Homo sapiens: one gene and its partners. Changing the gene in region 2 together with the main gene of any one other region gives a genetic interaction. Each region holds a gene or a part of one and is shown on either strand. Other genes may lie near its edges.

What was found.
Region 1: changes in PPP2R2A (region 2) and PSMD12 together harm fitness less than expected from each alone (positive genetic interaction), as found in Homo sapiens cells (one large-scale study listed by BioGRID).
Region 3: changes in PPP2R2A (region 2) and COPA together harm fitness less than expected from each alone (positive genetic interaction), as found in Homo sapiens cells (one large-scale study listed by BioGRID).

The regions. Positions count from the first base shown.
Region 1 is NC_000017.11:67,356,578-67,360,232, forward strand, and holds part of PSMD12 (26S proteasome non-ATPase regulatory subunit 12), read right to left. Parts: intron 1,002-3,655; coding exon 942-1,001; intron 855-941; coding exon 726-854; intron 1-725. UniProt on the Homo sapiens protein: Component of the 26S proteasome, a multiprotein complex involved in the ATP-dependent degradation of ubiquitinated proteins.
Region 2 is NC_000008.11:26,364,446-26,368,100, reverse strand, and holds part of PPP2R2A (serine/threonine-protein phosphatase 2A 55 kDa regulatory subunit B alpha isoform), read right to left. Parts: intron 1,787-3,655; coding exon 1,695-1,786; intron 1-1,694. UniProt on the Homo sapiens protein: Substrate-recognition subunit of protein phosphatase 2A (PP2A) that plays a key role in cell cycle by controlling mitosis entry and exit. Involved in chromosome clustering during late mitosis by mediating dephosphorylation of MKI67.
Region 3 is NC_000001.11:160,305,251-160,308,905, reverse strand, and holds part of COPA (coatomer subunit alpha), read left to right. Parts: intron 1-1,660; coding exon 1,661-1,743; intron 1,744-2,412; coding exon 2,413-2,552; intron 2,553-3,132; coding exon 3,133-3,218; intron 3,219-3,307; coding exon of another isoform or gene 3,308-3,334; coding exon 3,335-3,473; intron 3,474-3,655. UniProt on the Homo sapiens protein: The coatomer is a cytosolic protein complex that binds to dilysine motifs and reversibly associates with Golgi non-clathrin-coated vesicles, which further mediate biosynthetic protein transport from the ER, via the Golgi up to the trans Golgi network.

The DNA of each region.
Region 1 (3,655 bases), on a different chromosome or scaffold from region 2:
AAAAAAAAAGAAAATGAAATATTTAGTTACTACTAAAAAAAAATTTTGAAACAGCATAAAAAGATGTGCTTAATAAAAGGGATATGACTAAATAAAATGAGAATATCAGCTTGATAAATTAAAACAAAACCATTTAAAATAATAAAAGTGGGGCTAGGCACAGGGACTCATGCCTGTAATTCTAGCATTTTGAGAGGCCAAGGCAGAGGGATCACTTGAGCCCAGGAGTTTGAGACCAGCCTGGGTAATATAGTGAGACCTCATCTCTACAAAAAATAAAAAAATTGGCCAGGTGTGGCGGCATGCGCTTACAGTCCCAGCTGCTTGGGGGCTGAGGTGGGAAGACTGCTTGAGCCCAGGAGGTTGAGGCTGCAGTCAGTTGTAATCATACCACTGCACTCCAGCCTGGGTGACAGAGTGAGACCCTGTCTCAAAATAAGTAAATAAATAAGGAAAAAATAAAAGTAGCAATACCAAAATAGAACAAAGCTGTATGAACACTCTAAGTACAACACAATTTTTAAAAATATGCAAACATATAAAGACTAGAAGAAAAAACAGAAAACAGTCATATCATTGTGAGAATGTAGACTGAATTTTAAAACACCCTCTAGGATGTTACAACGTTGACTTAACACATTTTAAACAGACTTATAGAAGAGCTTGTGAAAAGTTCTGAAATACAAATGCTTTTGTGTTTGGAGCAGACATGATCATGAACTCACTTGTTTTAACTGACTCCGCCTTTTGGACAAAAGCATAATATTTTCATTAAGTAAATCCCATTCTTTAGCCTCATAGCACATCTTCACTACTGCAACTAAGATACGGGATGTCGATACCATATCGGAAGCCTGTAAGGGTAAAAATATATTGAAAGTTAATGGAAGAATGTTCAATGAAATTAATGGTAACTGAGCTTTCCCCTGTAAACTACTCACAGTACGAGTCTGCTTTTCCAGAGAGAGAAGGGTTTCAATGACTTCTTGAAGTCTTCCTTCCTAAAACAAAAGATGAAAATGAACAATAAAAAAACACACAAAATGCAAATAACTAGTCTAAAATGAAATGGTTTTGACACAGAAAAGGAAAAATCAACAGCCTCTTCTAGAGGAAAAGGACTACCCATAACTAGTTTTGTTTCTCTCCTTTTCATGATAGTGCTTCCTTCTCTAGTGGGTTCCATCAGTCAGTGGTTCCCTACTTGAAGCCCATAAGCTATTTTTAATATTTTTAAATGCCTAAGAGAAACTGAACATATAACAATCATGTAACACCTAAGAAAACATCAAGTCTTTGTTTTGGATTCTAATTTATCAACTCAGTGTGGTAACACCTGTTTATCTTGTTCTTTTTTTTTTTGAGACAGAGTCTCACTCTTTCACCCAGGCTGAAGTGCAGTGGCACCATCTCGGCTCACTGCAACCTCCACCTCCCGGGTTCTAGCGATTCTCATGCCTCAGCCTCCGGAGCAGGTGGGACTACAGGAGTGCCCCACCACACCCGGCTAATTTTTGTTGTTTTTTGTAGAGATGGGCTTTCACCATGTTGGCCAGGCTGGTCTTGAACTCCTGACCTCAAGCGATCATCCCACCTCGGCCTCCCAAAGTGCTGGGATTACAGGCCTGAGCCACTGCATCTGGTGGATCCTGTTCTGATCAGAGACTCTAAGTGGTAGTCACATGTGTCTTTAAAGAATAAAAACAGAGGCCAGGTGCAGTGGCTCATGCCTGTAATGACAGCATTTTAGGAGACCGAAGGGGGCAGATATCTTGAACTCAGGAGTTCGAGACCAGGCTGGGCTACATGGCGAAACCTGTCTCTACAAAAAAATACAAAAATTAGCTGGGCATTGTGGTGCATACCTGTAGTCCCAGCTACTCTGGAGGCTGAAGTGGGAGGCTGGCTTGAGCCATGGAGGTGAAGGCTGCAGTAAGCCAAGATCGCACCACTGCACTCTAGCATGGGCGACAGAGTGAGAACCTGTCTCAAAAAAAAAAAAAAAAAAAGAAAAGAAAAAAAAGAAAAAAAAAGTAGGAAAATAAATGATTCCTTTATGAAGTTACCGTCACCCTAACAGATATTTTAAAATACAGAGTTCCAAGGAGAAATAAAAAGAATGCTTGGAGCTAAAAGACAGGAAACTATGGTTTAATTTTTCAATGACTTTAAGAATAAATTAGTAATCATGCTTACCGGAAATGAAGGCATCTGAGAACACCCACACATGCTATCCTTAAAGTCATGCTCTTGAGCAGATACTGATTCAACTGAAATACAGTTTCTGACAACTTACACTAACCTCTCCACATCTCTAACTCAGATGTAAAAATAAAACATTCTCCCTAGGCTATATATTTAGAGATTGGAACAATAAAACTCAAATAATATAAACATAAATGATAATACACCAGGAGTAAAACAAGTTATCCTATTAGGAACCACACATTTTGATAAAACCAAAACCAACATACAGCACAAAAACTGCACTCATTGGCCAGGCATGGTGTCTCACGCACTGTAATCCCAGCACTTTGGGAGGCTGAGGTGGGAGGACACTTGAGCCCAGGAATTCGAGACCAGCATGGAAAATAGGGGCAGATCCTGTCTCTACAAAAAATTTACAAATTAGCTGGGCAAGGTAGCCTGTGCCTGTGGTCCTAGCTACCCAGGAGGCTGAGGCGGAAGAATCACTTGAGTGCAAGAGTTTGAGGCTGCAGTGAGCTAGGAATGTACCACTGCACTCCAGCCTGGGTGACAGAGTGAGACCTGGTCTCTAGATAAAAAATTTTTAAAATGCATTTATTTAACATGCTAATATTAATAACTATCATGTAAATATCTCTGACAATAAATTGAAATGAGAAGAGTATTGTTTAAAAATTGTTTTTCTAACCAAAAATGAATTTTTTTTATCTTAATAACATTCATGGATGATACGTGAGTACTATCCTTTTCTACTGATGAAAGAAACTTATTAAATAGCTTCTGAATTATGGGCATAAATAATGTTTTGACTTTTTAAAATACTGCTGCCATATTTTTCCAAGATAGCTTTTAAACATGCATGAATCTTCCATGCGGCACAGCATATATACTGCATGGCCCGTCTGAACTTATTTTAATTAAATCTGAAATATGTGATTCTTAACATATTTTAACAACGTTTCCTGTTTGGAGAGCCCTAGTTCTCCTTTCTCTGAAAGTTCTATAGATTTATATATATAATAAATACTGGCTAAATGTTCATCAGAGGAAAAAAACAATGAACAAATCTATAAATTCTCCAAAGTTGAAGGCTAATAAATCCTAAAAGATGAAAGAATCTTAGAACTAGAAAGACGGCTAGGCATTATTTAATTCAATCATTTCATTTTAGAGATTAAAAAGACTGAGGACTAAACAGCTTAAAATGACTTGCTTAGCCACAAAAGGAAATGAGCAGCACTAGATCCGGGGCTCCTGCCTCAAGCTCCAAAGCTCTCTCCACTAGAGTGCAGCGCTTCCCCTACTGTACTAGTTTAAATCTCACCTTTCGCTTTGATCAAAGTCATCTCTATGGTTACTATCTGGCAACAAAATGAAGGGCAAAAATAGTTAAAATGCAAAATACTATTTAATGACAGTCACCCATCACATTTGCAATTACTATTAG
Region 2 (3,655 bases):
GACACCTAGGCTGTGGCTACTTGAAACTTTAAAAAGGTATCATTAGGCCAGCATTTCTGTGGTATTCCTGCCAAAAATGTATAGCCTGAATCTAATCATGAGGAAACATTCTATAAAATAACTGGCCTGTGTTCTTCAAAATGCCAAGGTCATGAAAGACAAGGAGAGACTGAGGAACTGTTTCAGAATAAAGGAGACTAACAAGAGATGACAACTAAATGCTGGATACTGAACCAGACTGACTTTGTTCTGTGCCATAAAGGACATAGTTACAGTAACTGGTCAGTTTCAGTGGGTCTCCGGATTAGATGGCAGTACTGCATCGCTGTGAATGTTGCTTTGGATGCTGCACTGTCACTATGTTGGAAAGTGTTTTTGTCAGGAAATACTCATTCAAGAATTTAGGGTTATGGGCATCACATCTGGCGTAAATGGAATAAATTCCCATGTGGCACACAAGTTGCATGTGAGCACATGCGCACGTACCTATGTGGACAAATATAGCTATAAATAAACAGAGAATAGAACACGTGATACAGCAAACAGCGACAGGGGAACCTGGGTCAAGGCCAGCCAAGAGTTCTTTGTGTTATTCTAACAAATTTTCTCTAAGTTTGAAATAGTTAAAAAAAAATTTTTAATATTAAGGAAAACAAATCGTTTTTTTCTGATAATAGAACATAAAACTGCTAATTATCTGCTTAAATACAATGAAAAACTGGTTGTAGCTGTGCGCCACACCTTATTTCAGTATCTCTTTACTCTTCAAATTTGTTAATCTTTTTTTTCTTCTTCCCTTTCCTTCTTTCTTCTTGATGCCTCAGGTTTAGTAGTAGCACTCAAAGGCAATGTTTGCTATTAACAGAACTCTAGGTTTACTAGTCCTTATGTCAAAAATCAGATAATTTTAAAAGCCAGATGAAAGAAAACATTCTATAAGTTCTATTATCCTCTGTAACACACAACACCATGAAATCGGAATCATATTAAGCTCTGTGATAAAACTGTTGTTGAAGTATCTCTGATTACTTTAAATGTCAGTTTAATTCCAAAATTATGTTTTACTACTTTCTGTTCTACTGGAACATAGTGGCAAATAGACAACTAAAAGACTCAAAGTAAGACTTATTTTATCTTTAAATAATGGGTAACATTTTACTAAAAATGAATACGAAAAAGGAATTACACTACGGCAAAACTGGAAATTATAAAAAGCAAAGGATAACTACTACTAAAATTTTAACCATATATATTATGGTTAACATCATACATAACATACATATGAAAGACCACTTCTATGAGGTGTTAATGTAGCATCTGGAAAACCTGGTGTTTCTAACAATCCAAATGAGTTATCTGCCGCCTGAATGTTTCTGCAACAGTTTAATGGAAGAATAACAACCAAGCTGAAGCTTCACCGTTTTAATGGTTAGCATGTCAGAAATGTGATCTGGTTCATAAAAGAAAAAAAATTCTAGACATTTAAATAATTTAGATTACCTAGAATTTGTGTACTTTTATATTTACTAGTGAAATACAATGCTTTAATTTTTTATCTACCAGTACTGCTGTGCTATATCTAAAATTACTAAATTTATTTCAAGGAATCCCTAGAGACGAAGTTAGGACCTGGAATGAAATAGTTGTTTCTTTTCTTTAATAAAATTCATATTTGAGAGGTTTGACTTAATTACCTGTCAGATCCATTCCAACAACATTCAAATTTGTCAAATATGCAGTCATTTTCATACAGTGAACAGAGTTTACTTCTGAGGTATTCATGCACCTGGGGGAAAAATACAAATATACTGCACTGAAATTAGGAAAATGATTTAACAAGTCCATATCTTTAAAAAGAAAAAAAGGGCATATACAGACACATACACACACCTTTTAAACCTATTAATCTCAATCTTCTCAGTAACAATAAAGGCATTTTGTCCTTTTACAAAACACACAAGCCCTTCAGGGAGGTACATTTTCCTACTGGTATGACAAAGGAAAACTCCATTCTGGGCATGGCACACATAGCCTTTATAAGCCTGAATAAAACATTCAGGCCAAAAACACTTGAAAATGGCACAGTTAAGAGACTAATAAAAGAACATTATAGCAATATCTGAATATCACTATTCTTGGCTTTCAGTCCATTAACTACTGATAACAACACTGAAACTGTGCCTATTTCTTTCTTAAATACCATTTTCTGGGCATAAATTTAACTGAAGCCTATATTTTCCATTATAAATGCACATGTATGCATAGCGTAACCATGCCTTGGTTTGGTGATAAATTATATGGTTATTCTGGGCATATATTATTAAAAATTTGATAGTATCATATTATACAATGTCAAAAGCTAACAAAGCTGTGCCTGTTTTTTGAATTATATAATTCTGTATTTACTAATATGTCAAAAAAGGATAAACTAGAAATCTCATATTTAAAAAGTCTGAGAAATATGACATATTTCAACATTAATATTAATTACAAACAAAAGTTCCAAAGTATTTGTTGTAACTCAAAGGAAAAAAGGAAGTGTCTATATTTCACCATCTCTTTTTAAGGAGCTACTTAAGGAGAAATGACAGAAATGAGAAGGTACCTTCTAAATGCTTAGAATTCTCTATTCTATATGAAACAATCTAAACTTATTTTCAGTGTCTATTTTAACTTTAAATATAGTGGAATGATTCAGGCCATGTCTCTGTGACATTAAGTGAAAATCTGTAATACAGAGGAATAGCAACTCATGTGGGGTTAGGATCAAAAGTGAGCATGTAACACAAAAAAATCAGTAAGAAAAAAATACCCTTCAATCACACAAAACTTGGCAAGATGCTGGTACAAATTCAATAAAAATAGTTTTATCTATATATGATACATTTGCCTATAATGTGACTACTTTTAATCACTACTCCAACTGTTTATAAGTAGAAAAGTAGCAAATCAGGTAAAATTAGGTAGATTATCATAATTTAGCAACATTTTAGAATGCACATTATAGAGTTTCTCACTATACATCAGTATGAAGCTAAGCTTCAAATCAATTCTTCTCAATGGGAATGAAATGATGGTGAGGGTAACTAGGAGATATATCAATCTTGGCAGTTACACAAATAGAAGTCTTTTTTCAGTATACACGAGGGATGGGTTCCAAGAACCCCAGGTATACCCAAATCTGCAGTTAGCCCTGCGGAACCCACACGTGAAGTTTTGGCCCTCCATATATTTGAGGGGTTTGCATCCCTCAAATATTGTATTTTCAAATGTGCATTGGTTGAACAAAACAAAACAAAAAATCTGTGTATGAGTGAACCCATGCAGTTCAAATCCATGTTGCTCAATAGTGAACTATACTTTGAAAAGCAAAGCAGTATTTTGTCTTTTGTTTCAGTGCAGTATTTATTTTGAAATTTCACGTATCAAAAACAATCTTCGTTTATGTTTGTCAGAGGATTTAAAGTTTGAGAAACATACTTCCCAGTCTATTGAGAATATATAACATAAAGAAAGTATATGTATAAATTAGAGTTAAGTGATTTCAACACTGCAGTCTAGGGCCTAGCACAGGTTTGTGCTGTCCCTCACCCTGTTCCAGGCTGTGTACTTCATTCTCTTCTGTTTGATGTAGTGGACACGGATAAACAGTAGT
Region 3 (3,655 bases), on a different chromosome or scaffold from region 2:
AGCTAGATATATATATTTTATAATTTGGTTATTAGAAACTCTCCATTCTCTCTTTCAGCACAGCATGTTATCCTAGTTTATTGTCAGTTGATATGACTTTCACCCTGGTAGTTTCATTTATTTAAAAATGTGGTTCCAATCTTATAATGCCTCATCCTGGGACTAGGGATTTATACTGTCCTATCCACATCCAGATCCGATTTGCTTCCTTTTGCATGTCAAAAAGATGAGGCTGCTAACAGCCCCACACCCCACCTGGGATCCCAGGATCCAGCTGAGACTCCTGCCTACCTCTTCCATTACCACTATCCCTTGTTGATGTCCTTGTGATTAGAACTTGCTGACAAAACATTCTCAGAATGGATTTGACTATTGCCTATGGTCTTTTGGGTGCACTTCTTCCAGCGGGTTTATGGCTAGTACCAGGTCAGAGATTTATTCTGCAGATCCCCACTCTTACTGGCATATTTTAATGATATTTTAGACCCCATCAACAGATTCCTAAGAAATAATTTGCTAGCTCTGTTTCTTTTGTGGGTGCCCCTGGGTTATTATTGTTGCTAATCGATCTCCTCTCTTTTAAATGTGTTCATAGTGAGAGAAAGAAAAGATATTTGTATTTGGTATCCATAAGTCAAAGTCTCCCTTATAAATTAGTCAGTTAAGCCATTTCTGACTAAATCTTATGGTTTGGTACCTCCCAACTAGCTCTTTGCTTTTTTTTTTCCCCATCTGTGTTTACAATTAATAGAATTTAAAATATTTTGTTTTGTTTTATTACCACTTTTATTTTCTGTACTTCATTTTTTGAGGGAGATAATAATAAAGGAGCAGCCCAGTGGTGGGCAACAGAGATGGGCTTGAATAATGCAGATTCCTGGCCCCTGGAAAACGGGAGTGTTGGTTTTGATAATAATTAGTTTCATAAATTGCCTGCCACTCCAGATGCCAGGGGCAAGACTGGCCAGCATGTTCTCTCCAGTTTTCTGCTGGTCTAATAGGTAAAAGAGTATTTTGATGCACCCTTCTGTTTATCCTTCTACAAGTTTCCCAGAGAATGGAGTGTCCATTTCAAAATTCTAATAAGCCACTGAACTGAGGAACATTTTGTAACTCTCTTCAGGGTGATAAGAATGGTCAGTTGACATTTACAGAGCAACAACTTGGTTCTAAATACCGCCCAGCACCAAGCTCTCCTGTCAAGATTTAGTTGGGAGTGCTCTGCCTCACCCTGCCCTACTAGGAAGTCTGCATTTGCATGTTAAAAGCAGCAGAGAGCAGCTGCATCCTGTGGAGGGGGTCCTATGACACAGGCTTGCTTTGCCGCAGCTTGGCCAGGGAGGCCCTGCTCGTTAGCTTGATGGAGTGTGCTGTCTCCCAAGATGGGCGGCCCTTCTGCCAGTACATGATGTTGGCTGAAATGCAACCACTTGGCCTAGAGAAAAGAGCCTTGGCAGGGGTGGTGGTTGGTGTTTGGAGGGGACTGGTGGGGAAAAGTCACTCAATAATAGCCCCAGGTTATGGCTGAATTAGTTAGGAAGCAGCTCAACTGGCAAAGCCAAGATGGCATCCAGCAAGACTGGCAGCTCCATGGCACCCGACTATGTCACCTGCCAGTGACTCACCACATGCTCCCACCCTTTGGTTTTGTTCTTCTCAGCGCCTGAAGGGAAACGATCCTCAGGCCTGACAGCCGTTTGGGTCGCTCGAAATCGGTTTGCTGTCCTAGATCGGATGCATTCGGTGAGTTAAGACTAAAAGCAGAAACTAATTTGGGGAGTGTGGTGGCAGTGGCCTGTGTATTGCAAAATAAAGACCATTGTTTTTTCTGTTCTCCCCCGGGCAGCCGTGATTCTCATGTATTGGCTGTACCTCTGTCTCTAGCCCTACACTAAGCCCTCTTGGGGGAATGGCATTAAAACTGATTTGATTGGGTTGATGATCGCCGTGGCTCTGGGTTTAAGAACCAAGCTAAAGTCACTCTTGACTACAGGAGCCCAAAACGCATCAAATCTGAAGTGAGTGGGCTGGATGAGGAAATTTCCCTCCTTCTGCTGCCTCCATTGTTACTTGAAATGTAATAGGTCCAGCACAAGATAAAGCACTCTGAAGAAAATATTTAACAAAATTTAAGCCCCAGAAACAGTGTTTTCTCTCTCTCATTCATTGAGAAATTCAGACTTTAGTTGGGACTTCTCAGGATGTTTTAGTTGGAGGAGAAAAAATAATGTATTAAGGCCCTTAGAGAAGATCTTGGTTGGCATGGTCTGTCTGCAGTGGTAATTGACATGGACAGGACAAAAAATACTTAGTTAATTGAAGCTAAGGAACAATTGCTGAGGAACATCATCAGTTGTCATCATCATCTATACACATTTCTTCTCTTAACCCCATCTTTAATACTTATTGCAGCTTCTGATCAAGAATCTGAAGAATGAGATCACCAAAAAGGTACAGGTGCCCAACTGTGATGAGATCTTCTATGCTGGCACAGGCAATCTCCTGCTTCGAGATGCGGACTCTATCACACTCTTTGACGTACAGCAGAAGCGGTAACATATCAGGTGCCCCTAAGCAGACAGCCCTGTAGTTGGGGAGAGTGGACATCTTTAGTGGGAACCTTTTTTCCCCAAGTGAGTTTGTCTTGTGGCTTGGCCACTTCTTGTGCTCCAAGACTCTTTATAGTAACTTTTCCCTTCTGTGATCACTCTCCATTCTTCACGTCCACACTAGCATTACAGTGAGATTCTTGGTTATTTATCTGTTTTTACAGTACTTACCTGAACAAAGCGTGTTCTCCGAGCTTAGAATGAGAGAGAGACAGAGATTAATAACATAGTTCCTACATTTAAGGGAGCTTGCAGTCCAGTGGTGAAAACAGACATACACAGATTCCCTAATAATACAAGGAAATGAGGGAGAGGGGGTTGAGGAAGGGGTAAGTGCACAATGTGAGCCAAAATGTTTAAGTCACTGAGCTACTATGTAGGAATTACATTAAGTATTTTATGTAATTAGAATTACATTAAGAAATTGGGGTTTACATTAATTAGAGGGTGCAATTGATGTAGATCAAAGCCTGAGACAAGGGAAATAGATCCATTCATGTTTGCACATCTCTATCTATCTCAGGACTCTGGCATCTGTGAAGATTTCTAAAGTGAAATACGTTATCTGGTCAGCAGACATGTCACATGTAGCACTACTAGCCAAACACGGTGAGTCTTCATTATATCCACCCTGATTTAGAGACCATTCCCTTCCACCCCGATCCCTGCCAGTCTACGGCACTTACCCTATCCAACAGAACACTCATGCCCTTTGCCTCTTACAGCCATTGTGATCTGTAACCGCAAACTGGATGCTTTATGTAACATTCATGAGAACATTCGTGTCAAGAGTGGGGCCTGGGATGAGAGTGGGGTATTTATCTATACCACAAGCAACCACATCAAATATGCTGTCACCACTGGGTAAGTTAATTATCTGGGATACAGAATGGGAGAAGACAGCTTCCTGAAATCACTGTCTTGTCTTGAGATGTAACTGAAGTCCTCCATGAATTTTCTTCATGGAAAAGCCTTACCTGGCATATATGTGCAAGGGGCATCAGAACATTCTTTTTTCAACTTTTTTAAAATTGAGAAATCTAAAA